Linked DNA regions of Homo sapiens: region 2 is linked to region 1. Evidence: fine-mapped QTL for protein levels in blood plasma. A gene starts in region 1. The other region holds a variant in brackets. All regions are shown on one strand. Distances are from middle to middle.

Region 1 (10,355 bases):
CTCTGCGCTCCGCGGAAACTGCACAGTGCGCACGCGCAACCGGGGAGGGACGGGAAAAGGCTCCTACACTCCGCCCCCTTCCTATCCCTTCCTTGAGAGCCAATGGAAACTCTGTGTTCAGTTGCGTCATTTGTCCTGGCAACTACTGGCAGATTCTTTCCAACCTCGAATTCTGCTCAGCTCGCTTTGGCAGCTTGGTGGGCGGTGGGCGCGGGTGGCGGAGGCGATTGAAGCTGCTGGCCCAGCATGTGGTGCGCGAGCCCAGTTGCTGTGGTGGCCTTTTGCGCCGGGCTTTTGGTCTCTCACCCGGTGCTGACGCAGGGCCAGGAGGCCGGGGGGCGGCCAGGGGCCGACTGTGAAGGTGAGCGGTGTGACAACTGCTTGCATGGCGGCGGCCCCGCGCTGCGGCGCAGCAGCTGTCGGCTTTGGCTTCTCCTGGCCCTGGCTATAAATAACATTCCGCCCAGGAAATGCAGGCCCTGTCCCTCGTTTTAGATCGCCCAAGCCCAGCTCGAGTAAAAAGCTCAAGCCGGGCCTGGTGGTAACGTGAGGCCACGTTGTGGTTTTGCTGTGAATATTAAACTTCAGCAGTAAAAGCTGGTGGGTTTGTATTTGGATTAGAGTTTGTGCAAAGAATGCTAGATTCAGATGATACTGGCGCCAGATTGATTCTGCTGCTTCCAACCAGCAAGATTTGCCTCCCCTTGCACAGAAGACGTCTTTCAAGTCCAAGCTAGTTGGTGACTCCCCAAAGGAAAACAAAACATGGCATTGAGTTGAGTAGCTTAAATCAGAGGACATAGCTAATATTTGTTAGGACTCTGTAGGTGAAAATTGCTTTGCAAAGGAGTACACTGACTCCTTGGGAAAGAGAGGAATACAAAAGAGTGGTTCCTTTTTGTTCACGGTATCTCAGCTGTGAACTCGCAGTCAGAATACGTGAGTCTGTATCCCACCAAGTCCCCTAGCTCTGAGACTTTGGTTTTTGCAAAATCAGCGTACTTCACTTTAGAGATCTGTTAGCAAAGGCAAAGAAGGTAAGTGGCTATGCTAGCCCCTTCCTTCTGGACTCCTGTAGCGCTCACTCCATGTTTTACTGAAAATAATTAGTTTAAATGTATATGCCCTCAGCTGGAAAATATATCCCTAGTGAACAGGAAATTGTAGGTTCATCATATATGTTGAGTGAATGGATGGGTATAGTCGTACTAAAGTTGTGTTTTTGTTTGTTTTGTTGTTTTGTTTTTTGTTTTTGTTTTTGTTTTGAGACAGTCTCACTGTGTTGCCCAGGCCGGAGTACAGTGGCACAATCTTGGCTCACTGCAGCCTCCATCATCGGGTTCCAGCGATTCTCCTGCCTCAGCCTCCCAAGTAGCTGGTACTAAAGGCACCACCACCACGCCTGACTAATTTTTATATTTTTAATAGAGATGCAGTTTCACCATGTTGGCCAGACTGGTCTTGAACTCCTGGCCTCAGGTGATCGGCCCGCCTCAGCCTCCCAAAGTGCTGGGATTACAGGCGTGAGCCACAGCGCCCAGTCCTTAAAGTGTTAATAATTGGAGCCTGGCTTTCTATGAGCTCTGCAATAATTAAACTTTTCTCCAGAAATTTAAAATATCTACATGTTATTACTCGATATAAAGATATTTGTTTAGCTAAGTTATAATTTTGCTCCAAACCATGCTATAATTGTGTCCTATACTTTTAAAACAGACTTTGTGAGGCAAAGACAATTGATTTGATGACTCATCTGGGGCTCCCACTTATAAATGTTTCAAGAGAGACAGCATCTGGATTAATTAAATGGGAAGCTTATGCTGTCTGTCCTAAATTTATTACAGCATGCTGTGATTATTGCATGTCTGACTAACCTGTCTATATATTTCATTTGTTAGGTAAAGAAGCTTGTGTAATCGCAGAGGAAGGACATAACAGTTTGGTAACTAAAAGAACCAGATTCTGCATCCAGCTCTATTACTGCTTATGAGTGATCCTCCCTCCTCAGCCTCCTTTCTTATTTACAACTTAATTTCTTCTCAATGTATAAGATTAAAATGCCATATTATACATACTCTAGAGCGAAGGCAAAAAAACTGAATGGTTCCTGAGCCGTCTCGGACCTATTGATATGTTTCGTTACATTTACAAAATATTTTGAAAAAAATTAAATTCACTGGGTACATTTTAAAATTGGGAAATTTTATGTAAAAATTCATATTTCTGGCTTTTCTCAAAAAACCAGATGACCTGGCAAGATTGGCCTTATGGCTGTATAGTAGAATTGGCTATTGGCTGCTCTTTTTAGAAAGGACTTGGGTTTTGAGTAGTTTGCCGCCCCTACTCTGCCCCCGATTCAAATTGCTTAACTCTTCTTTTTCCTTGCCTGGCCCCTGTAGATATTCAAGTCTGTGAGTCCTATTATTAGGTAATGTGAGGTTTACTGGAAAAACATAAATATTTCCAAATCTCTTTTAAAGGATTATATTATGGGACTATTTTAAATAACTTTTTATTTTAAAATAATTATAGATTCACTTATAAAACTATCTTTAATAAACATAAAAGCACAATATAAATAAAAGAAGTATGGCTATCTGAGGTTATTTTAGCAATAAAGACATCCCAGAAAACTTAAGAAGCTACTAATTTGTTAGGGCATTTATGGTGAGGTTATTCTCTTCATGTAAGTCCAGAAAATGAGTTTCCTTTCTTACCTTGACTTCTTTGTGGTGTGTGACACCATTGACATCTTTCCCTTTCAGAGACTGCCTTCTCTTCATGGTCATGATACTGCTTTTCTCCTTCCTGTCTCTATGCCCACTTGTCCAGTGTGTCTTTGTGGGCTTCTGATCCTCTAGCCATGGCTTAGAATTTTCCAGGGTTCTGCTCTCTTCTCTTCTCTCTTCTCAGTCTACACACTCTTCTTGGCAACCCAAACCAACCTACCTCCAGTCTAATAAATCTCTAACCTTATATCCACTGACCTTTCTAGAGTCTCAGACCTTGCATCCAATTGACTAGTGAACATGCCCTCTTAGATATGATGTACATCAACATCAACACAGTCAAAAAACCAAAGTCATCATCTCCTTCCCTTCTCACTCCCCTAAACCTGTTACTGTCATGCTTACGGTGACAGCATGGGACAACTACCTGGTCACCTAGCCTAGATTCTAGACTTCTCTTTCCCCCTTATCCCCCAACCAATCACTACATCGTTGAGTCTACCTCCTGACTGGTCCTGCTCCTTTCTCCTTACTCAAGTCTAGGACTTCCTTACAGAACTTCAGCAGTTTTCCCCTCCGCATTGTCAAAATAGCATTCTTCCTGCTACCTGTCTCCCTCCTGTCTAGTCCCCTGGCAGGGCTATCATATTACTTCCTTATTTAGTATCTTTCAGCAGTTTCCCAGTTTCCTCCAGGTGCCGCTCCTTTGTTTTCCCACAGTATCTGATACACTTCTCATATTGTTTTGGTCTCCTCTGAAAGTCAAGGCAGTGTTTCTCACCACCTCATGTCCAGCAGCTACCATAGTGCATGGCATATGGTAGGCGCTCAGTTTGTTGAAGAAATGTATGCATATATGCTGTGATAAAATTTTGGGTATATTTTAGTGAGTCAAATGTAGATCTTGAAAAGGACAAGTTAGTATTCCTAACTTTCATCACCTAGATGATACATTGGCAGAGTGATAGTTGAGGTATAGAAATCATATGAAGGTATACTGTGGGAAATACCACAAGAGTGATGAGGCACTGGAATACTGGGGGTTTCTTTTGTAGGAGACAAGAATTAGAGGCTCCTAGGAGACTTTGATGATAGTTTCTTTTTCTTTTTTCTTTTTTTTTTTGAGACAGAGCCTCACTCTGTCACCCAGGTTGGAGTACAGTGGAACAGTCTCAGCTCACTGCAACTTCCGTCTTCCAGGCTCAAGTGATCCTCCCTCCTCAGCCTCCTGAGTAGCTGGACTACAGGTGCTTGTCATTACACCCAGCAAATTTTTTGTATTTTTAATAGAGATGAAGTTTCACTATGTTGCCGAGGCTGGTCTTGAACCCCTGAGCTCAAGCGATCCGCCAGCCTTGGCCTCCTAAAGTGCTGGGATTACAAGTGTGAACTCCCGTGCCTGGCCTGATGATAGTTTCTGCTGACTTGTAGCATTAATCATTACAGCAGGTTTCTGCTTTGCATACTGGATATATTTGCTAATTAAACTCAGCAAAATACATGTTGAGAGGGATCTCATTTTCCACGTGTAATATAGCAGATCATTACACATTCCTTTTAACACTGTGTTCACTTGCCTTTTGGAATAACACTCAGTCTTTGTTCTTATCCTACTTCACTGGCTGCTCCTTTCCGTCTTTTTCTGGTTGTTTTCCATCTTCCCAATTGCTAAACATTGGGATTTCACAAGGCTGAGACCCAGGACTGTGTCTCTTTTCCGTCTCTCCTTACTTTGTGTTCTCATCTCAAAAACACCATTTGAATGTTGATGGCTTCCAGATTTATATAGTCATCCTAGATCTTATACCTGATCTTCACATTTCTATATCTAGCTGCCTTCTCACTGTTTCCAGTTGGATGTTATATTAGTCAAGGTTCTCCAGAGAAATAAAACCAATAGGACCAAACAGAACATATAATCTATATCTATATATCTTCTTAATATCTGTAATATTTATCTATGTAAAAAGAGATTTATTATAAGGAATTGGCTCACAAGATTGTGAAGGCTGAGAAGTCCAAAATCTGCAGTGTGGGCAAGCAGGCTGGAGACCCAGGAGAGCCTGTGGTACGAAGGAAGTCTAAAGGGAGTCTGCTGGAGAATTCCCTCTTCGTCAGGAAGGCTGGTCTATTTTGTTCTGTGCAGGCCCTCAAGTAGTTAGGTAAGGCCCACCCACATTATGGAGGCCAATCTGCCTTACCCAGAGTTCATCAATTTAAGTGTTAATTTCATCATTGCTACATAAAATTAACCATCACAGACGTCTAGAAGCATCTTGAACTTCATATGTCAAGACTGGATTCTGGCCAGGCATGGTGGCTCATGCCTGTAATCCAGCACTTTGGGAGGCTGAGGCAGGCAGATCACCTAAGGTCAGGAGTTAGAGACCAGCCTGGCAAACATAACGAAACCCCATCTCTACTAAAAATACAAAAATTAGCTAGGTGTGGTGACATGCGCCTGTAATCCCAGCTACTCAGGAGGCTGAGGCACAAGAATCACTTCAATCCAGGAGTTGGAGGTTGCAGTGAGCCGAAATGGCACCGCTGCACTCCAGCCTGGGCAACACAGCGAGATTCTGTCTCAAAAAAAAAAAAAAAAAAAAAAAAAGCAAAAAAAGAAAGATTAGATTCCTGCTTGTCACCATAAACTGCTTCTCCTGCAGTCTTCCTCATTTCAGCAGATGGCAACTCCACGGTTCCAGTTTCTTGGCCAAAATTATTGGGATTATCTTTGATTCCTCTCTCTCTCCCCAACTCTGACACATTACATCTGGCTTATTAGTAAATTCTTTTGGCTCTTCCTTCAAGATAGGTCCAGAGTGTAACCACTTCTCATGACTGCTGTAGCTACTGCCCTGGTCTAAGAGATGCAACTATTTTGAGAACCTCTAAACTGGTCAGCTGGTCTCCCTGCTTTCTTTTCTGCTTCCTTGTAATCCATTCTTCAGACAGCCTTCAGAGACATCCTTTATGAATCATGTCGGACCATAACTCTTCTCTACTCAAAACCTTAAATGGCTTCCCTTCTCAGAGTGACATCCAGAGACCTTACCAAGCTTGAAAGGCCCTGGATGCCCCAGCATGCTGCTGCCTATTTGATCTCATTTGCTACACACCTCCCTCTTGCTCCCTCTACTTTAGCCACACTGGCCTTCTGGCTGTTCCTTGAAGCCACCAAGGACACTCCTGCATTTGAGCCTTGGTACTTGCTGTTCCTTCTGCCTGCGGAGTTCTTCCTCAAGTCATCCACTTAAATTGTTCTTCCACTTCCTTCAGGTGTCTGCTTGAATATCACTTTATCTAAGAGATCTTTCCTAACCAATCCATTAAGAATCGTACTATTACCTTGTCACCCTCCATCCTCCTTACCATGTTTATTTTTCTTCTTTGCTACGTATACCTTTACTTCTATCGGATGTAACTCTCAAGGGCAAGTTCTTTGTTTTCTTCATTACTGAATCTTAGGAACCTAGAATACTGTTTTGCACTTACTAGTCGCTTAGTAAATATTTGTTAAAAACATGAATAACTGGCTATTATGTTTAGTATTCTGTTCATGTTGATAGCATTAGAAATAAAAATATATGGGCTAGGCACGGTGGCTCACACCTGTAATCCCAGCACTTTGGGAAGCCGAGGTGGGCAGATCACCAGGTGAGGAGATCGAGACCGTCCTGGCCAACATGGTGAAACCCTGTCTCTACTAAAAATACAAAAACTTAGCTGGGTGTGGTGGCACACGCCATTAGTCCCAGCTACTCAGGAGTCTGAGGCAGGAGAATTGCTTGAACCTCAGAAGGTGGAGGTTGCATTGAGCCGAGATCACACCACTGCACTCTAGCCTAGGCAACAGAGCGAGACTCCATCTTGAAAAAAAATATATATATATATATGTGTGTGTGTGTGTGTGTATATATGTATTATATATGTGTATATATGTATTTTATATATATGTATATACAGTATATATATGTGTGTGTATATATATATATATATATGACTTTAAGCTCTAAAAGATGACATGATTGGCCAGTCATCTAAAAGCAACTGAAAATACTGGATAAAATAAAAATGTGAAAATATTGTAAAGTATGAGTTGGGAAGGCATACCCAGAAGCCAACCACAGAGTGGAAGTGGGAGTCCAGGGGGTTGAAGGGAGCACTGAAGCTGGCTTTACCTGGGAGCATTTGTTAGCCAGGTGATCTGAACTGAAGTTTTCATGGTTTTGGCTAAATAAACACAAGTCCCAGGCATTTCCAAGTTAGGAGAGTGAGAGCAGATCCTCTACCAACTAATTCAGGGCCCCAAAGACCTAGCCCTTCATTATAAAGGGTGAACTGAAAGTAACTACAACCTATTTCCATCTTTAGAGACTAAAAGAAATGGTTTCACTTGAACATTTTTACTGATAAAAGGAAAAACAAAACTTTCTTGATAACTCATAATTACAAGCTCGTGCACATAGGTAGGGGTCAAAGGCCCCATTCACACTACTAGGATGATCTGAAACATCTCGAACTGATAATTTAGTTGAAAGTGATTTTAAGTAGATCATACCCTCAGGAATCAGCAAATGTGAGTCTTGTTTTTGTTTTTGTCTTGTTTTGTTTTTTGAGACGGAGTTTCACTCTTGTCGCCCAGACTGGAGTATAATGGTGTGATCTCGGCTCACTGCAACCTCCGCCTCCCGGGTTCAAGCATTTCTCCTGCCTCAGCCTCCCAAGTAGCTGGGATTACAGGCACCTGCCACCACTCCTGGCTAATTTTTGTATTTTTAGTAGAGACGGGGTTTCATCATATTGGCCAGGCTGGTCTCGAACTCCTGACCTCAGGTGATCCACTCACCTTGGCCTCCCAAAGTGCTGGGATTACAGGCATAAGCCACCGTGCCCAGCCAGCAAATGTGAGTCTTACTTACAGGAACCCACATTCAACCTAGTCCTCAAAGAATTCATACAGTTAAAGTTCTAAGAAATAGAGCTGCCACTTAGAAAAGTCATGAACCCCTAGGGAAGAAGGGCACATAAGTGAGAGCCAGCTGGAACAAAAAACAGAAGAGGCACACCCCTGCAGTGGCTTCAGGTATTGGAATAATCAGGCATAGAAGTTATGTTTTTTTATGTTTAAAGAAACATAGAACATAAACCGAACCCATCCCTACCCATAGGGGACTATAAGGAAATTTACCTTGACACTGAGCAAAGTAGAAAAAAGAAAAAATATATATCTCTGAGAAATGATAACAACAAAACGTCCCTCACTTGTATTTGCAGCCAAAATTCACATCGGGGCCCAAAAACTTCAAGCTATATATTTAGTTTAAAGCAGTGCCTGGCTAGTTGCCCTTAGTCCCTGAGAAATACAAATACAAATCCTTACTGGAAATAATGCTCCTTCATCTCAGGCTTCAAACAATCTTCACAAATAAGTTTTGAGACGTATGAGTATCGTGTGGCGCAAAATAAGCAAGCACACAAAGAAACGAGGCACCAGGAACAAGAACCTATAGAAACAACAACAAATAGAAACGTACTCTGGGCCTGATGCAGTGGCTGTAATCCCAGCGCTTTGGGAGGCCGAGATGGGCAGATCACTTGAGGTCAGGAGTTTGAGACCAGCCTGGCCAACATGGTGAAACCTCGTATCTACTGAAAATATAAAAATTAGCAGGGTGTGGTGGCGAGCGCCTGTAATCGCAGCTACTTGGGGGGCTGAGGCAGGAGAATCACTTGAGCCAGGGAGGCAGAGGTTGCAGAGAGTTGAGATTGCGCCATTGCACTTAAGCCTGGGTGAACAGAGCGAGACTTCGTCTTAAAAAACAAACAAACAAACAAAAAAAACTCTGAAGACTTCAGATATTGAAATTTTCACACACAGATCATAATTAAGTTTAGTGTGTTTAAAGATATAAAAAACAAGCTTGAAAGTATCTTCAAGATATAAGGAACTAGAAGAAATGACCTAACAAGCCTCCCATTTTAGCCTCCTCAGTAGCTGGGACCACAGGTGTGTGCAGAGACAGAGTCTTACTGTGTTGCCCAGGCAGGTCTCAAACTCCTGGCCTCAAGAGATCCTCTCGCCTTGGCCTTGCAAAGTGTTGGGATTACAGGTGTGATCCACTATGCCCAGCCTGATTTCACTTTAGGCTCATAACGATGGAAATAAAGACTTATGCAGATCACCAAGGGGCTTCATTCAGGATTCTTATTCAGGTTTTTCTCTGTGCTTACAATTATGCTGTCCCAAGATGATAGCCTATTTTATTTTAGGGTTAGCCAAATTTTGTGGAAAAGTTATCATTTTAGGTAGAACTTCGTTCCAATGATTGATTGATTCAATATGCTGTTACAATGTGTCCACTGCATTTAGGCCCAATACTAAACTAATAGCAACAGGCCTGAAATCATTCTTTTTATTTATATTTTTAATTTTCTTGAGACAGGGTCTCACTCTGTCACCCAGGCTGCAGTGCAGTGGCTTGATCATAGCTCACTGCAGCCTCCATCTGCCGGGCTTAAGTGACCCTCCCACCTCAGCCTCTCGAGTAGCTGACACGACAGGCATTCACCATCATGCCTGGTGTTTTTTTGTTTTTGTTTTTTTGTGTTTTTTTTTTAGTAGAGACAAGGTCTCACTATGTGGTCCAGACTGGCTCCAAACTCCTGGGCTCAAGTGATCTTTCTGCTTCTGCCTCCCAAAGTGCTGGGATTACAGGTGTGAGCCACCATGCCTGGCCCCCAAATCATTCTTACTTAGCATTGGAATCCACTGTCATGAAGCATTGACTCATATGGACGTTTCTTTTTTTGTGTGTGAGATGGAGTCTTGCTCTGTCGCCAGGCTGGAGTGCAGTGGTAAGATCTCGGCTCACTGCAATCTCCACCTGCTGGGTTCAAGTGATTCTCCTGCCTCAGCCTCCTGAGTAGCTGGGACTATAGGCACGCGCCACCATGCCTGGCTAATTTTTTGTATTTTAGTAGAGAGAGGATTTCACCATGTTGGCCGGGATGGTCTCGATATCCTGACCTTGTGATCTGCCCACCTCAGCCTCTCAAAGTGCTAGGATTACAGGGGTAAGCCACCATGCCCAGCCCCATATAGACTTTTAAATGTGGTTAGTGGGTCATATGCATAGGTGTGGTAGTGGTTAAGTTGTGCATGCAGACATATTTATTTGTTCCTTCCAGTATGTAAAGAATTCTTGAACCGATTCTACAAGTCACTGATAGACAGAGGAGTTAACTTTTCGCTGGACACTATAGAGAAAGAATTGATCAGTTTTTGCTTGGACACCAAAGGAAAAGAAAACCGCCTGGTATAGTAAATTTCACCTTTCATTTTCCCCATGTGCTTGAAGAATACTGCTAATAGTTTCATTTCTTAGACGTGAAGTCCTCCTACTTACATGTTTGCCTCAAGTATGTCCATTTTAGAGCACGCAGCAAGCAGAAATCCATCTTCCAGTGACATGTAGTTCTGCGTGTTTTCATCCAGAATATTTCCAGTGTTACTTTACTTTCTGAGTACACCACAGATAACCAATTCTATGTTTTCTTTTTTCTTTTTCTGAGACAGAGTCTTGCTCTGTTGCCCAGGCTAGAGTGCAGTATCATCATCTCAGC
Region 2 (17,445 bases), 16 kb after region 1:
TCATCAATAAGTTGCTTGGCTGATGAATGGTACCTATGGGCATTTGAGTTTCGTTGAGGGAAGACAAATAAATAGTACAGGCATAATCAGCATTAGGTTAAAATTGCCAATGAGGCCTGGCGCGGTGGCTCAGGCCTTTCATCCCAGCACTTTGGGAGGCCGAGACGGGCGGATCGCAAGGTCAGGAGTTCAAGTACCAGCCTGGCCAATATGGTAAACCCTGTCTCTACTAAAAAAATACAAAAAAATTAGCCGGGTGTGGTGGCGGGCAGCTATAGTCCCACCTACTCGGGAGGCTGAGGCAGGAGAATCGCTTGAACCCGGGAGGCAGAGGTTGCAATGAGCCCAGATCCCGCCACTGCACTCCAGCCTGGGTGATAGAGCAAGACTCTGTCTTAAAAAAAAAAAATTGCCACTGAAATCACAGAGTTTAGACTCCTAACACACCAAGGCAAAGCCAGATACGTATGTCAAGGAAAATCTCAACATATAGAGAGAGCAGCTACTCCTGGTGATTTGGATCTTGGTAATCTATTAAAACAAAACTAGTACCTATTCAAAGATGATACAAGGACTTTGAAGATGTAAAGATGACTATGACTTCCTTCCTAGGCAGAGCTACCATTCTGCCAGCTTTAAATTTTGGGAAATTGGTTATTCACATCAAGTCAGGTTTTTCCTGGTAAAATAGCTTATCAGAGGGTGCCCAAAACAAACAGCAAGAAAAGGAAGGAGATGTCCTTTTTTTTTTTTTTTTTTTTTTGAGGGGAAGTCTCGCTCTATCACCCAGGCTGGAGTGCAGTGGTGCGATCTTGGCTCACTGCAATCTCTGCCTCGTGGGTTCAAGCGATTCTCCTGCCGGAGCCTCCCGAGTAGCTGGGATTACAGGCATGCACCACCACGCCTGGCTAATTTTTGTATTTTTATTAGAGACGAGGTTTCACCATGTTGGCCAGGCTGGTCTTGAACTCCTGACCTCAGGTGATCCACCTGCCTTGTCCTCTCAAAGTGCTAGGATGACAGGCGTAAGCCACCATGCCCGGCCAGGAGATGTCCTATTTTAAAATGTTATCCTTGGCCCCATACATTTCACATGGATAGATCTTTTATCATGATTTGTATCTGGGCTAGACATTTGGGTAGATTGAGTGGGTATCATAAAAGGATGTGGAATTCCTTCCTCAGCCTATCCTTGACACCTGAAATCCCACTCATTCCTTTTGCTTAAGTCATTGTTTTGCATGCATTACATACCCAGTGTAGTACTGTCAACTACCTAAGTAATTAGCATCCACCTCTAAGTTATTTTAGTCTTATTTTCCAACACAGCCGTGTAATAGTCCTATGCACCATAGCCACATAGCTAGCTTTAAGTAGGTTTAAGGTTGAAAGTTACCACAGACAACCTATTTCTTAACTTGCAAAGCACAAGCCCTAACTTCCAGGGTAGTTATTAGAGTAGGCATCCCTTTTTTATTGGCTTCCAAGCCATGAAATAGGGGCAGAAATCACTGAGTCCATATAAACAATATTCACAAACTTGGCCGGGCGCGGCAGCTCACACTTGTAACCTCAGCACTTTGGGAGGCCAAGAAAGGAGGATCATTTGAGCCCAGGAGTTCAAGACCAACCTGGGCAACATGGTGAAACCCTGTCTCTACAAAAATACAAAAATTAGCCAGGTGTGGTGTTGAGCGCCTATAGTCCTAACTACTCAGGAGACTGAGGTGGGAGGATCACCTGAGCCTGGGAGGTCAAGGCTCTGGTGAGCTGTGATTTTTTTCACTGTACTCCAGCCTGAGTGGCAGAGTGAAACCCCATCTGAAAAATAAATAGATAAAATAAAAATAAATAAAAGCCAATATCACAAACCTCTTTTGATTTTTTAAATTCAACAAATTTGTTGTGAATACCTTCTCCTATATCCTAGGGATCTTACAGGGCTCCTTAAACAATAGAAAAATCAGATATTATTGAGACGAAATGACTACCTAATGTTTTGGCGATGCTGGCCACTAGAGGCCCTTGGGGAGCTATGAACTAGTTTTAATCTTTGTGTGGACCTTTACTTTGGAGTTTTGGGGCATCACAGAGGTTTTCCTCTTTTTAAAATTAATGCCAGATACCAAGTTCTCTAGAAAAACTCAAAGAAACTACTGACATTTACAAAAAAATGTATTTTTCTCCTTCAGCCTCTTATCTTGAATAGACTAATAGTTCTTAATTATCCTCCCCAGCTATTGTTAGCAGGAAAGATAAGATTAAACAGGGACCTTTGTGCTGTGGGAGATTAATAATTTGGGCTATGCAAGTTTCTACTTTAAAAAGTATTCTGTCAGATCAGCCATGAAATTAACAAGCAAGATAAGTGTGGAGTTGGAGTATGTTTTCAATTAGGAAGGTGCCATTTGGTTTTTGACCTGAAAGAATGTTTTCATTTGCTTGCTTTGTGTTTAAAAAGGATAGGGAATCACTATAAAAATTTAAGGGTTTTCTGGAGCACAGTGTATAGCTGACCCTCTAAATACAAAAGTCTTTTAACATCCAGCTTTTAAATTAGAACAGAGTTACCGGAAGGTTTTGACAAATAATTTGACAAATATTAGGTTTTTAATGTTTTTAAATGTTGTGTTCTACTACTCAGAGGTAAAAAAGAGAAAGAACTTTCAAGAGAAGTCAAGCTGTAAAAATTCTAGGCTGCCACTAGTTGTTTAATAAATAAACTTAAATGTTGTATTCATTATCAAAGTGAACACCGGACAAGCGGGGAGGGGCAAAAGACACTTTTTTTTTTTTTGACAGTCTCACTCTGTTGCCCATGCTGGAGTGCAGTGGCATGATCTCTGCTTACTGCAACCTCAGCCTCCTGGGTTCAAGAGATTCTCCTGCCTCAGCCTCCTGAGATGCTGGGATTACAGGTGTGTGCCCCCATGCCCCTCTAGACTTTCTTTTGAAAGAGGAAAAGTACCTCTTTCTGATAGGAAAATTATAATTATTGGTATATTACAGATGAGCTTATTATTTTTTGTATTTTGGGCTTTTTTTCAATCTTTTCAGCAATTGAGAAGTAGCTGAGTTCTTGATATTTTCTGCACATAATCTATAAACAGCGAAATAGTAGTCTTGCTAGAGGAGGTTAGATGTTGGTGACAAGTATCATTGGCAAGAATTTTAGAAGCCAGGTTGGCTGGCACCAAAGCCCTAGCATTGGAGAAGTGGGAATAACACAAAGGGCTGTACCTGCTGTGATAATTTAGCAACCTAATCCCAGTAGGGGCTGGGCATCAGGTGAGTTTCAAAACAGAGATCCCAAACAATTAAGGTTCAGCGAGAATATTCCTAATTTTATTCACGTGTTTGCATTTCTTTACATTTTTATTTAAAACCCAATAGTGCTTTGTCATGTGTATGTGCTCATTTGCTTTGCCGAAGATACATCTTCCTAGAAAAAGTGAACCATAACTTTTTGCTGGTTAATTACAATCTATGGGTTTCAAGTTGGCCGCAAACCAAGGCCATCCCAAAGGAACCGATTGCCTTTTATATATGAGTTTCCTTCTTGTTACCTTAACAGCAGCAATTTGGATACAGTGCTATTTGTTTTAGGAATACTGATCTTGAGAATGCTCCAAATGGTAGTAAACATTGTGGCACTACATAGGCCCTTAGTTTTGAAGCAAGTATAATCTCTTGGAAAGAAAGTCAAATTAAAAACACAAATTATCCCAATAACTTTGTATACACTGTTGTCCTTCAGTACCTGTGCAGGAGGGGTTCTGGGACCATACTCAGACACTAAAATCCTGATGCTTAAGTGTTTGCATATAACCCATGTGCATCTTCCCTCCTGTATACTCTAAATCATCTCTAGATTACTTATAATACTTAATACAATGAAAATGCTATTTGTATTAGTCTGTTCCCGCATTGCTGTAAAGAACTATTGGCCAGGCGCGGTGGCTCACGCCTGTAATTCCAGCACTTTGGGAGGCCGTGGCAGGCGGATCAGCTGAGGTGAGAAGTTCAAGATCAGCTTTGCCAACATGGCGAAACCCTGTCTCTACTAAAATACAAAAATTAGCCGGGCATGATGGTGGGTGCCTGTAATCCCAGCTACTTGGGAGGCTGAGACAGGAGAATCGCTTGAACCAGGGAGATGGTGGTTGCAGTGAGCAGAGATCATGCCACTGCACTCCAGCCTGGGTGGCTAAGCGAGACTCCGTCTCAAAAAAAAAAAAGAAAAAGAACTATCTAAGACTGGGTAATTTATAAAGAAAAGAGGTTTAATTGGCTCACAGCTCCACAGGCTGTACAGGAAGCATGGCTGGGGAGGCCTCAGGAAACTTAGAATCATGGCAGAAGGCAAAGAGGAAGAGGCATGTCTTACGTGACTGCAGCAAGAGGAAGAGCGCAAAGGGGGAGGTGCTACACTTTGAAACAACCAGATCCCTCATGAACTCACTCACTATCATGAGAAAAGCTAGGGTGAAGTCCACCCCCATGATCCAATCACCTTCCAACAGGCCCCTCCTCCAACAGCGGGGATTACAATTCCTCGTGAGATTTGAGTGGAGACACAAATCCAAACCATATCATTGTAAATAGTTGTTATACTGTATTGTTTGTATTTTTTTTTTGAGACAGAGTCTCAATCTGTTTCCCAGGCTGGAGTGCATGGCGTGATCTCGGCTCACTGCAACCTCCATCTCCCAAGTTCCAGAAATTCTCCCGCCGCAGCCTCCCAAGTAGCTGGGATTACAGGCATGCCACCGCCATGCCCGGCTAATTTTTTGTTTCTTTTTTTAGTAGAGGTGTGGTTTCACCATGTTGGCCAGGCTGGTCTCGAATTCCTGACCTCAGGCAATCCTCCCGCCTCAGCCTCCCAAAGTGCTGAGATTACAGGCATGAGCCACCGTGCCCAGCCCTGTTTGTATTTTTTAATTGTTGTAGTGTTATCTTTAATTTGTTTAGAATATTTTTGATCTGCTGTTGGTTGAATCTGCAGATGCAGAACCCACTGATAGAGAGGGCTGCTGTACCACATTTTCCTTGGGTGTGTCTTGGTTTCCATGGAAACTGGAATTCTTCCCTGCCTTGGATCATAGGGTAGTCAGCACCAAGATAAGCAAACTATATGCCTTTTGAAGTGATTCATAGGGATTTTTTTTCCATTTATTTTGTAATTGGCTTTTTTCCTTTTTGCCATTTAGAAAAAACACTGGACTTGGCATCAGTTGACCTGCGGAAGATGAGAGTGGCAGAGCTGAAGCAGATCCTGCATAGCT[G/C]GGGGGAGGAGTGCAGGGCCTGTGCAGAAAAAACTGACTATGTGAATCTCATTCAAGAGCTGGCCCCCAAGTATGCAGCGACACACCCCAAAACAGAGCTCTGATCTCCAATGCCAGCACATTTGTGACTTGTAATTAGAGAGAAAAGTGACTCTCTAGGATATGGACATGTTGATTAAGGATAACTGGGAATGCATCATATTTGGTCTCATGCTTTTTGTGTTGGTATTATTCCTCAGAATTTTGTTACGTGGGTTTATGAGTGAAACTAATACTACTGATAACTTACATTTGCAGTGTACCAAAAGCTAAAAGTTCCTTTCTCATAAGTTTCTTGGAATGACTATGCCAGTTTTCATTGCCTGTCTCCTAAAAGTGACCTACTGACAAATTGATGGAGTAAATTGATTCCAAGAAAGAAGAAGGCATTCAGAGACTCCTCTCTGGATGCAATTTTAAAATATATTGGACTAAAACAAAAGACACAACAGTCAGCTTATCTAATGCACAACTTCAATCCCAAATACAGAATCAAAAGTTTTTTTCAAGTGAATTTTCTGTTTTCACTCTATATTGTAGCTCTCTTTGGTATCAGAAATGGTCAGGCAGGAGTACTCGTTTTTCCCATTGGAAGAAAACCCACTTAAACCTACTTAAAGAAAATAGAGAGATCAAGAAACCGTATAAGTATAGCCAATGTTTGGCAATTATATCAACATTTACATTGTTAATTGAACCAAGCTCAAGGTCTTTTTCATTCCTTACAGTCACATATCAGACAAGTTTTTGATGGAAGATTAAAGCATATTAAAAACACTCATAGGCAACTTGGAACTTTACCATTGTTAATGCTATTTTATCAGCTTTCGGTTGTAAAATCATCTTTGGTTCCATTTTCTGGCCACATAAGAATAAGAAACCCACAGTAGAAGTGTCCGCCTCTGTGTGGCAGGTACAGCTGGGGAATACTGAAAAAACATTTCCTTGGAACTTTCTGGAGTGATGGGAATGTCCTATATCTTGATTGACATGGGGATTACATGGGTTAATAACATTGTCATCTGGTAGGATAATTAAGATCTGGGCATTTTATTGTATGTACATAATATCTTTAAAAACTGCTGTAGAAAAATTATTTGGAAATTAACTAAAATTAATTAATTCAACACACCTTGTTTGCTAGGCACAGTGGCTCACACCTGTAATCCCAGCACTTCAAGAGGCTGAGGCGGGAGGATTGCCTGAGTCTAGGAGTTAGAGATCAGCCTGAGCAACAGAGTGAGGTTCCGTCTCCACCAAAAATTTTAAAATTAGCTGCGCATGATAGTGTGTACCTGTAGTCCCAGCTACTCGGGAGGCTGAGGTGGGAGGACTGCTTGAGCCCAGGAGGTGGAGTCTGTAGTGAGCTGTGATCCTGCCACTGCACTCCAGCCTGGGCAACAGAGCAAGACCCTGCCAGAATATATGAAAAAACAAACAAAAAAGCCCACCTTATTTATTCAAAGAATTGCATTTACTGGCTGGGGTTGTTTTCAGGGAGTGGAGGAGACATTTTCAGACTGAAAATATACATCGAAAACATAATTTTTAATTCTAAATGCTGCAGAGGTAAATGCATTTTCAGCTGGGAAGCTGATATGTCAGAGAGTTAGTGGTTCCTAAGGAAATATATATATGATGTAACTGAAAGGTGAGAATACAAAGCTGTGGTGTAATGAATGGTCAAAGTAATTATTGTTTCTGAATTTTGGCAGCTCGATTATCATTTGTAAAGCATCTACTTTATTTTGAATTATATCTTCAAAAAAACCAAAGTTTGTTTTTGGTTGTTTTTGTTTCTTTGAGACAGTCTCGCTCTGTTGCCCAGGCTGGAATGCAGTGGCACAATCTTAGCTTACTGCAAACTCAGCCTCTTGTGTTCAAGTGATTCTTCTGCCTCACCCTTCCGAGTAGCTGGGATTACAGGCGCCCACCACTATGCCCAGCTAATTTTTTTGTATTTTTAGTAGAGACGGGGTTTTGCCATGTTGGCCAGGCTGGTCTTGAACTCCTGGCCTCAAGCGATCCACCCACCTCAGCCTCCCAAAGTGCTGGGATTACAGGTGTGAGCCACGATGCCCGGCCTCTCCAGAGTTTTCTTTTCTAAACTTCTTATAACCTTTATATCTGTTTTTATTTTTGCATTTTGAACCTATCAAGAAATGTGTTGTTTGAAAATATTATGTTTGGTGTCTGACCTCAAAATCGGGTCGCATTTCTATGTCTTTTCTTCAGGATACAAATTGAGGTAATAGAAACAGTGCTCAGCCAGTCATTTGTATCCATGGTGTTTAGTCTGTTTTTTTTTTTTTTCTTTCTTTTTGGACAGAGTCTCACTCTGTCACCCAGGCTGGTATGCAATGGCGCTATCTCAGTTCACTGCAACCTTTGACTCCCAGGTACAACTGACTCTCCTGCCTTAGCCTCCCCAGTAGCTGGGATTACAGGCGTGCACCACCACACCTGGCTAATTTTTGTATTTTTAGTAGAGATCGGGTTTCACTATGTTGGCCAGGGTGGTCTCAAACTCCTGACCTCAAGCGATCCACCTGCCTCATCCTCCCAAAGTGCTGGGATTACAGGCATGAGCCACTGTGTCCGATCTAGTCTGTTTTTTTGTTTGTTTGTTTGTTTTAAAGAGAATTTACATCAGTGCTTCTCAAACTGCACATATGGTGTTTATCACAGCACAATTCACAATTGCAAAGATATGGAACCAACCTAAGTGCCCATCAACTGGTAAGTGGATAAAGAAAATGTGTTTGGCCGGGCGCAGTGGCTCACGCCTGTAATCCCAGCACTTTGGGAGGCCGAGGCGGGCGGATCACGAGGTCAGGAGATCGAGACCATCCTGGCTAATATGGTGAAACCCTGTCTCTACTAAAGATACAAAAAATTAGCTGGGCGTGGTGGTGGGCGCCTGTAGTCCCAGCTACTCGGGAGGCTGAGGCAAGAGAATGGCGTTAACCCGGGAGGCGGAGCTTGCAGTGAGCTGAGATTGCGCCACTGCACCTCAGCCTGGGCAACAGCGCAAGACTCTGTCTCAAAAAAAAAAAAAAAAAAAGAAAATGTGTTTATGTTATCAGGCATAACAAACATAATACAGCATGGAATACTACTTAGCCATCAAAAAGAACAAAATCATTCTTTTGCAGCAACTTGGATGGAAGTGGAGGCTATTATTCTAAGTGAAGTAACTCAGGAATGGAAGACTAAATCTGTATGTACAAACCTCTATGTTCTCACTTATAAGTGGGAGCTAAGCTATAGGGTAAGCAGAGACATAAAGAGAGGTATAATGGCCATTGGCGATTCAGAAGCAGGGAGAGTGGGAGGAAGGTAAGGGATAAAAAACTACATATTGGGTACAATGTATGCTACCTGGTGACAGGTGAGCCAAAATCTCAAACTTCACCACTGTACAATTCATCCGTGTAACCAAAAACCACTTGTACTCCAAAAGTTATTGAAATAAAAAATAAATAGCTGAAAAGTAAAAACAAAAACTGGGCGTAGAGGCAGTCTTGTTAAAGTAGGGGTTCTGATTCAGTGGGTCTGGGGTGGGGCCTGAGATTCTGCATTGCTAATGAGCTGCCAGGTGATGTCCACACTACCCTTCCAGGACCACGCTTTGAGTAGCAAAGGCCTAGGTCAAGGATCCTGCAACTGATACATACTTTTTTCCCTTTGCCAGTATCAACCTAAATAGTAAACAGAGAAAGGCTCTCTAAAAAAAGATGTTTGTTTTGGGAATAGAGCATTGCAATGGGAATACACAAGCCTTAGTAAACTATGCGTATTCAAGGGAGGTAAAGGAAGACAAAGGTTTTTAAAGATAAAAATGAGGGGCTGGGTGTGGTGGTTCACACCTGTAATCCCAGCACTTTGGGAGGCCAAGGCAGGTGGATCACCTGAGGTCAGGGGGTTCCAGACCAGCCTGGCTACCATGGTGAAACCCCGTCTCTACTAAAAATACAAAAAAATTAGCTGGGCATGGTGGTGCGTGCCTGTAATCTCAGCTATTGGGGGAGACTGAGGCAGGAGAATCGCTTGAACCCGTGAGATGGCGGTTGCAGTGAGCTGAGATCATGCCACTCTACTCCACTCCAGCCTGTGTGACGGAGCAAGACTCTGTCTCAGACAAAAAAAAAAAGAGGAGGATTGCATAATTGTTTTGAAATAATTATCCTTGACCACAAAGATCAATCACAAGAGTGATGCTAGTCTGAGTTTGGACAGATAGTCTCCGGGTCAATGCCCTTGCAGAAGAATTTTCTTGTGTGAAGTTGTGATGGCTTTTGTGGAGGATTATGATTTTTGCAGTCTTTTGTGATTGTTTATGTTATCAGGCATACAAGCCTGAGAACCCTCTTTTCATGGCCTCCCCCAGCTCTGTTTTCAGGGTTTTCTTACCATTTGTGACCCCATTCTGATTCTCATGACTTTCACACCAGTCTTGATCAGTTATGTTTTTGATAGAGTTGAATGTAACAATAACAACAGCAACAACAAAATGAAACAGAAAAGTACAAGAATTTATTCTCCCATGTAAAAGAAGTCCAGAAGTAGCCAGTCCAGGGTAAATATGGCAGCTCCACAGTTATTAGGGACTCAGCTTGAACTTTTTGCTTCCCATCCTAGTGGTGGGTTTCACTTCTAGCCCGTTGGCCTAGTTGGATGCTGCAATTTACTATTTCAGAAGGGAGAAGGCATGAAAGAACTTGCCTCTAACCCGAGCCCACTTCTTTTTTTTTTTTTTTTGTTCGAGATGGAGTCTGGCTCTGTGGCTCAGGCTGGAGTGCAATGGCACGATCTCGGCTCACTGCAACCTCCACCTCCCAGGTTCAAGCGATCCTCCTGCCTCAGCCTCCTGAGTAGCTGGGATTAGAAGCGCGCGTCACCACACCCGGTTAATTTTTGTATTTTTAGTAGAGACGGGGTTTCACCATGTTGGCCAGGATGGTCTCAATCCCCTCACCTTGTGATCTGCCCGCCTTGGCCTCCCAAAGTGCTGGGATTACAGGCAGGAGCCACTGTGCCCGGCTACTACTTGTTCTTGTTCTTGTTCTTTTTTTTTTTTTTTTTGAGACAGAGTCTCGCTCTGTTGCCCAGGCTGGAGTGCAGTGGCGTGATCTTGGCTCACTACAACCTCTGCCTTCCCGGTTCAAGCGGTTCTTGTGCCTCAGCCTCCCAAGTAGCTGGGATTACAGGTATCTGCCACCATGCAGGGCTAATTTTTTTTATTTTTAGTAGAGATGGGGCTTCACCATGTTGGCCAGGCTGATCTTGAACTCCTGACCTCAGTTGATCCACCTACCTTGGCCTCCCAAAGTGCTAGGATTACAGGCATGAGCCACCGCACCCGGCCCTGAGCCTTTCTTTAAGGGAGCCTCCCTCCCTCTACCTACCTCCACTCCCACCCTCATATCTCACTTAACACTCTGCTTATACACCATTGACCAGAGCTTTTTTATTAAAAAGGTTTTTTTAAAAAAAAATTTATTTTTAACTTTTAGGTTTGGGAGTACATGTGCAGGTTTATTATATAGGTAAACTTGTGCCATAAGGGTTTGTTGTCACTCAGGTATTAAGCCTAGTACCTAGTTATTTTTTCCTGATCCTCTCCCTCCTCCCAGCCTCCATCCTCCAACAGGCCCCCGTGTTTGTTGTTCCCTTCTTTGTGTCCATGTGTTCTCATTATTTAGCTCTCACTTCTCAGTAAGAACATGCAGTATTTGGTTTTCTGTTCTTGTATTAGTTTGCTAAGGATAATGGCCTCCAGCTAGCTCCATTCATGTTCCTGCAAAAGACATGATCTTGTTCTTTTTATGGCTGTGTAGTATTCCATGATGTATATGTACCATATTTTCTTTATCCAGTCTACCGTTGCTGGGCATTTAGCTTGATTCCATGTCTTTGCTATTGTGAAAAGTGCCATAATGAACATATACATGCATGTACTTTTTTTTTTTTTGAGACAGTCTCACTCTGTTGCCCAGGCTGGAGTGAAGTGGCATGCTCTCAGCTCACTGCAGTCTCTGCCTCCCGGGTTCAAGTGATTCTTGTGCCTTAGCCTCCCGAGTAGCTGGGATTACAGGCACACACCACCGAGCCTGGCTAACTTTTGTATTTTTAGTAGAGATGGGGTTTCACCATGTCGGCCAGACTGGGTCTTGAACTCCTGACCTCAAGTGATTCACCTGCCTCAGCCTCCCAAAGAGCTAGGATTATAGGCGTGAACCACTGTGCCTGGCCGAATGTGTCTTTATAATAGAATGATTTATATTCCCTTGGGTATCTACCCAGCGATGGGTTTGCTAGGTTAAATCACTGACCAGGACTTAATCACATGTCCAACTTGGCTGCAAAGGAGTTCAGGAAATAATATCTTTTGGTTGGGTTCATTGTTACCCAAATAAAATCATATATATATGATGAATATATATATGAATATGTATGAATATATATGTGTGTGTGTGTGTGTATATATATATATATATATATATATATTTTTTTTTTTTTTTTTTTTTTTTTTTGGTTACTGAGGAAGAAGGAGGAAATAGTCTGTGGCCACAAACCATCTTTGCCACACAGCATAAATTTTTCCTAACTCTGCATCTTAGTGATGATTCCTGGTTATGATACCCTCAATAAGTCTTGTTCCTCCTTGCTATTTGCATCTTCCATAGATGTAGGCAGTTACGCATTTCCTTCTTTTTTGATTTGATGAGAAGTAGCTACTATTTTTCCTTTTTAATTTTTAATCACTACTCCTCTCACTGTGCATGTGTTTGTGCGTATATGCATTTTTTATCTGTATTTCCCCCCCAAATCCATAAGCATACAAGATTTAGGAGTCGGACATTCTGACAAAAGTGTCAAAACTCTAGGCTAAAATACTTTCATCCAGCCCAGGCATGGTGGCTCACGCCTATAATCCCAGCACTTTGGGAGGCTGAGGTGGGAGGATTGCTTGAGCCCAGGAGTTTAAGATCAGCCTGGGTGACAGAGTGAGACCCCATCTCTACAAAAAATAAAAAATTACCTGGGAGTGAGTTGTGGTGCACACCTGTGGTCCTAGCTACTAGGGAGGCTGAAGCAGGAGGATCACTTGAGCCCAGGAAATCAAAACTGCAGTGAGTTGTGATCACGCCACTGCACTCCAGCCTAGGCGACAGAGCGAGACTCTATTTCAGACAAAACCAAACCAAAGAACAGAAACCTTTCATCTAAACAGTGTTACTGGTGGAGGGTCTTTTGACTGCAAGCTGTCCAGGTTCTTGGCGTTTTGAACAAAGAATTGGACAAAATACACAACAAAGCAAGGAAAGAATGAAGCAACAAAAGCAGAGATTTATTGAAAATGAAAGTACACTCCACAGGATGGGAACAGCCACAGCAAGCGGCTCAAGGGGCCCAGTTACATGATCTTCTGGGCTCCAAATACCCTCTAGAGGTTTTCCATTGGCCACTTGGTATATACCCCATGCAAATGAAGTGATGGCCCATGATCAGTCTGATTGGTTGCAGAAAGCAACCAATCAGAGGCTGAAATGAAGTTACAAAGTTACACTCCTATGCAAATGAAGTCTTGTCCTGCAAATCAGTCTGACTGGTTGCGGAAAGTAACCAATCAGAGGCTGAAGTGAAGTTACAAAGCTACACTCCTACGCAAATGTCTGATTGGTTGTGAGGAGCAACCAATCAGAGGTACTTTCAATTTTTCATCTGCCACCCAGAAAGGGGTGGGGGAGTTGTGGAGAGAGTAGCCTCTGGTCCTTTTGTTACTTAGGTGTGGAAAGTTGGGGTTTTCCTTTTGATCTAGTTCTAGGAAGTCAGCATGAATCGGCTTTAGGTTCCCTGCCTCCAAACCTTATTCTCCTGTCTCAACAGTAGTGGTCTGGGACAGGCATTATTCCAGATCTAGTCTAAATTTCAAAAATTCCAAGCAGAAGACCCTTTACTTTGGCTCTTACATAAACGTGGCAGACCAGATATAACATTTGGAGCACAATCTAAAATTGTAGTTTTTCATTTGGGTGTGGATAATCTGTAATACACATTCCACTAAAAAAAAGTTTTAAATTTAGACCAAATTAGCTTGGCATATAGCACAAGAAAATATTTAATGAGTGGATCCCTAAACAGGAGAGCATTTTGTGATCCAAAGGCCATATCTATGAGTTTGAACACCTCTTGATCAGTGTCATTTCTAAGCAGATGGATGTGCATTTTGATTTTGAGTCTCATCCAAAAGAAGTGATAGTCAGGTAGTCATTCTTCCACTGTGTGTTTAAAGTAGAACAGCAAAAGGGAAATCCTCTTGGGTGCACCATCATTATGCATTTAGAAACTTTTGATTAGTCACTATCATTTATTTTAGTTTCCCCTTTTTGTTTTAATATGGAAATCTTGAGTTTGTAGTATCAACAAGAGATTAAAATTACAATTGAAGTGCATCAGGTGATTCTTCCCTTGATAATAATTATTTTCTGGTAGCGCAAAACAAAGATCAACAGAAAAAGAAATGAGTAGCAGGTATTATGTGTCAACAGTTTGTTTTTGGTATGTTTCCACTGGCAGAAGTTTCGAGAATTGGGATCGAGCAGGCAGACCTGGGGCTGAATTTCCAACTCCCACCAGTGGGCTGTGTGAGATGAACAAACTAAAATTTTAGGTGTGGTAATTGACAGAGGTCAGGCAGCTCATTGTGAGTGAAACGGATCTGTTTGAAAGCACACACTTTAAATGTGGATTTTTTACCTCCAGGCCCAGTGGCTCTCAACCTGGGCTGTGTGTCAGAGGCACCTGGGGAACGTTTAAACGTCTCAAAGGCCAGGTCAATTACTTCCATTTGTGTGTGGTAGTCGGGAGGGGCGAGAGAGTCCCAGGTGTCAGTGTTTTGTTAAAGCTTCCCAGGTGATTCAGTGTGAAGCCAAGTTTGAGAACCACTGTCCTGGTGGTGACTTCGTATATGAAGCTCCACTTCTGTGGTTTTGCTCTCCCAAGGTTTGGTGGTTGACCTTGCAAACTTACATACATGGTCTGGTAAGTGGTGCATTTTCTGTGAACATATGCCTGCTTATTAAGATATCGTGAATTTTCTGTCTATGCTGAGTAATGGATGGATTAACCATATTTAGAACCAAAGAACGGCCGCCGCAGTGGCTCACGCCTGTGATCCCAGCACTTCAGGAGGCTGAGGAGGGAGAATCACCTGAAATCAGGAGTTTGAGACCAGCCTGGCCAACATGGTGAAACCCCATCTCTACTAAAATACAAAAATTAGCCAGGCATGGTGGTGGGCACCTGTAATCACAGCTACTTGGGAGGCTGAGGCAGGAGAATCGCTTGAACCCGGGTGGCAGAGGTTGCAGTGAGCCGAGACTGCGCCACTGCACTCCACCCTGAATGACAGAGCGAGGGCGGGGGTCGGGGGGAAGAACCAAAGAAGAAAGAAAAAGAGCACATAAAGACAGAAGACGGGCCCACAATCCGATTACCATAATCCTTGGAGCTAGATGTTCTTGGACTTAATAACTTTTCATAGTTTAGAAAGGGAATATGGGGCATATACCCCTATCGCACACCCTCCCTCCCCCACCATGAGGTTGGGGCAGCATCCTGTAACACCCTCCCGTGAATCCACATCAGCTTTTGTCACCAGAAGAATTCAGGTCACTTATTTAGTTATGTAAAAGAAGTTTTGATTTTCAGAGTTTTCTGGATTTCAGGATTTTGAATGAGAGGTTGTGGTGACACCCAGTCTGGGTGTCATCATCACTAACTGAGACTCTGGGCTTTTTTTGAGACAGAGTCTCGCTCTGTCACCCAGGCTGCAGTGCAGTGGCACGATCTCAGCTCACTGCAAGCTCCGCCTCCCGGGTTCCCGCCATTCTCCTGCCTCAGCCTCCTGAGTAGCTGGTACTACAGGCGCCAGCCACCATGCCCGGTGAACTTTTGTATTTTCAGTAGAGACAGGGTTTCACCGTGTCAGCCAGGATGGTCTCGATCTCCTCACCTCGTGATGCCCGCCTCGGCCTCCCAAAATGCTGGGATTACAGACGTGAGCCACCGCGCCCGGCCGACACTTTGGGCTCTTTTGCAAAACCTCTACCTCCCATCGTTCCATACACTGGTAAAAGTTGGAAGCCGGGCGCAGTGGTTTACGCCTGTAATCCCAGCACTTTGGGAGGCTGAGGCGAGTGGATCACGAGGTCAGGAGTTCGATACCAGCCTGCCCAACATGGTGAAACCCCGGCTGTACTAAAAATACAAAAAATTAGCCAGGCATGGTGGCACGCACCTGTAGTCCTAGCTACTCCGGAGGCTGAGGCAGGAAAATTGCTTGAACTCGGGAGGCAGAGGTTGCAGTGACCCGAGATCACACCACTGCACTCCAGCCTGAGTGACAAAGCGAGACTCTGTCTCAAAAAAAAAAAAAAAAAAAAGTTGGAAAGCACCTGGGCACCTGGGCCCTCAGAAACCAGGACTCAAGGTGCCTCACTTCTTTCTTTGGGCCACTTCCTTTCCTGGAGCATGGAGTAGGGTAAGCACGAACTACTCACCCAGGAAGTGTGCTCATCCTCTTGGCTTCTTTCCCCACACAGGTGTGTCAGCTGTGGTTTTTCCTCTTCAGGTCGCAGGAGCCAAGAAGCTGAAATGAGCAGCTGCTTCTCTTTTCTGCAGCCCCCACCCTCAGGACTCCTTTCTCATCAGACTAAAAAAGACTACCTTAGTCAGGCCGGGCCGTGGCTCGCGCCTGTAATCCCAGCACTCTGGGAGGCCGAGGCGGGCGGATCACGAGGTCGGGAAATGGAGACCATCCTGGTTAACACGGTGAAACCCCGTCTCTACTAAAAATACAAAAAATTAGCCGGGCTTGGTGACGGGCGCCTGTAGTCCCAGCTACTCGGGAGACTGAGGCAGGAGAATGGCGTGAACCTGGGAGGCAGAGCTGGCAGTGAGCCGAGATTGCGCCACTGCACTCCAGCCTGGGCGACAGAGCGAGACTCCGTCTCAAAAAAAAAAAAAAAAAAAAGACCACCTTGTTCAGACTCTGCAACCAACTGTCTGATAAGTCTCTCTACCTGCACTGTTTACAATCGACTGCAGAAGACGTTGTTGACAGAGCTCTAGCCTTTTTTCCTTTTGAATCTTTTAAGACCTATTTTGGAAAGAACGGATCAAATGTTGGCTCCTAGTGATGGAGCAGCTATAAATACATTCTGAGGGACCTTCGGCTGGGCAATTTCTAGCAGGCAGTAAACTTGCTCACCTGCTAGATAATAATATCTAAGAATGTATGTGTGTATCCCAGAAATCCAGGTGTTCCCCTCACTTCTAAACGTCTACTCCTGTCAGCTAAATATTTGCTTATAAATCTCCATTCTTCTGCAATCCTAAATGAATAGGAGATTCCTTGTTGCTTACAGAAATCCGGACTTATTTCCTTGCCAGATATTTACATGTTTTTGCCTCTCCTGAAAGTTTGTAGTGTCACAGCACCTTGACCTTGGGCAGTAAGTGCTCAAAAGTCTGGTTCAGACCCAGACTTTGAACATGACCTCTGTAGTCTGCTTGCTCTACGAGTTTGTTGGTAATTTCCTGAAGGTTCATTTTTTTTTTTGTTCTGAGACAGGGTCTCACTCTGTCACCCAGGCTGGAGTGCAGTGGTGTGATCTTGGCTCACTGCAACCTCTGCCTCGTGGGTTCAAGTGATTCTCCTGCCTCAGCCACCCAAGTAACTTGGATTACAGGCACGTACCACCACACCTGGCTAATTTTTGTATTTTTAGTAGAGACAGTTTTGCCATGTTGGCCAGGCTAGTCTTGAACTCCTGACCTCAAGTGATCTGCCACCTCGGCCTCCCAAAGTGCTGCGTTTACAGGTGTGAGCCACCGCGCCCAGCCCCTAAAGGTTCATTCTATTGGAAAATCTTGTTACTGTAATAATATTCTGAACATACAAAGATGGAAGTGGAAATAATAAGGTGGAAAGAGGACTGAATTGGAATTCGAATTCTAGGTTTGCCTGTGGGTAGTTGTGCTAACTGAGGTGGAGTTCTTCAACTTTCCTGGCCCTTGGTGTTTCATCTTAGAATGCAGTTAATGATGCCTA

What was found. PIP is the posterior inclusion probability: the model's chance that the variant is causal. Sun 2018 read protein levels with aptamers (SomaScan).
Region 2: its variant is fine-mapped to the plasma level of the CDNF protein (Sun 2018, PIP 0.95). The variant lies in the coding sequence of CDNF. If it changes the protein, the assay may bind it differently, which can mimic a change of level.

Annotation. Positions count from the first base shown.
Region 1 is chr10:14,827,838-14,838,192 of GRCh38, reverse strand. CDNF (cerebral dopamine neurotrophic factor) reads left to right here and starts at 156. Exons shown (of 4, transcript NM_001029954.3): 1 at 156-361; 2 at 9,921-10,048. The coding sequence starts at 247. RefSeq lists a silencer at 1-103.
Region 2 is chr10:14,807,924-14,825,368 of GRCh38, reverse strand. CDNF (cerebral dopamine neurotrophic factor) reads left to right here. Exons shown (of 4, transcript NM_001029954.3): 4 at 5,211-6,124. The coding sequence ends at 5,389. Among named protein-coding and RNA genes, the nearest start is that of CDNF, 21 kb to the left of the region's middle. The variant G/C (reference allele first, on the strand shown) is at 5,286.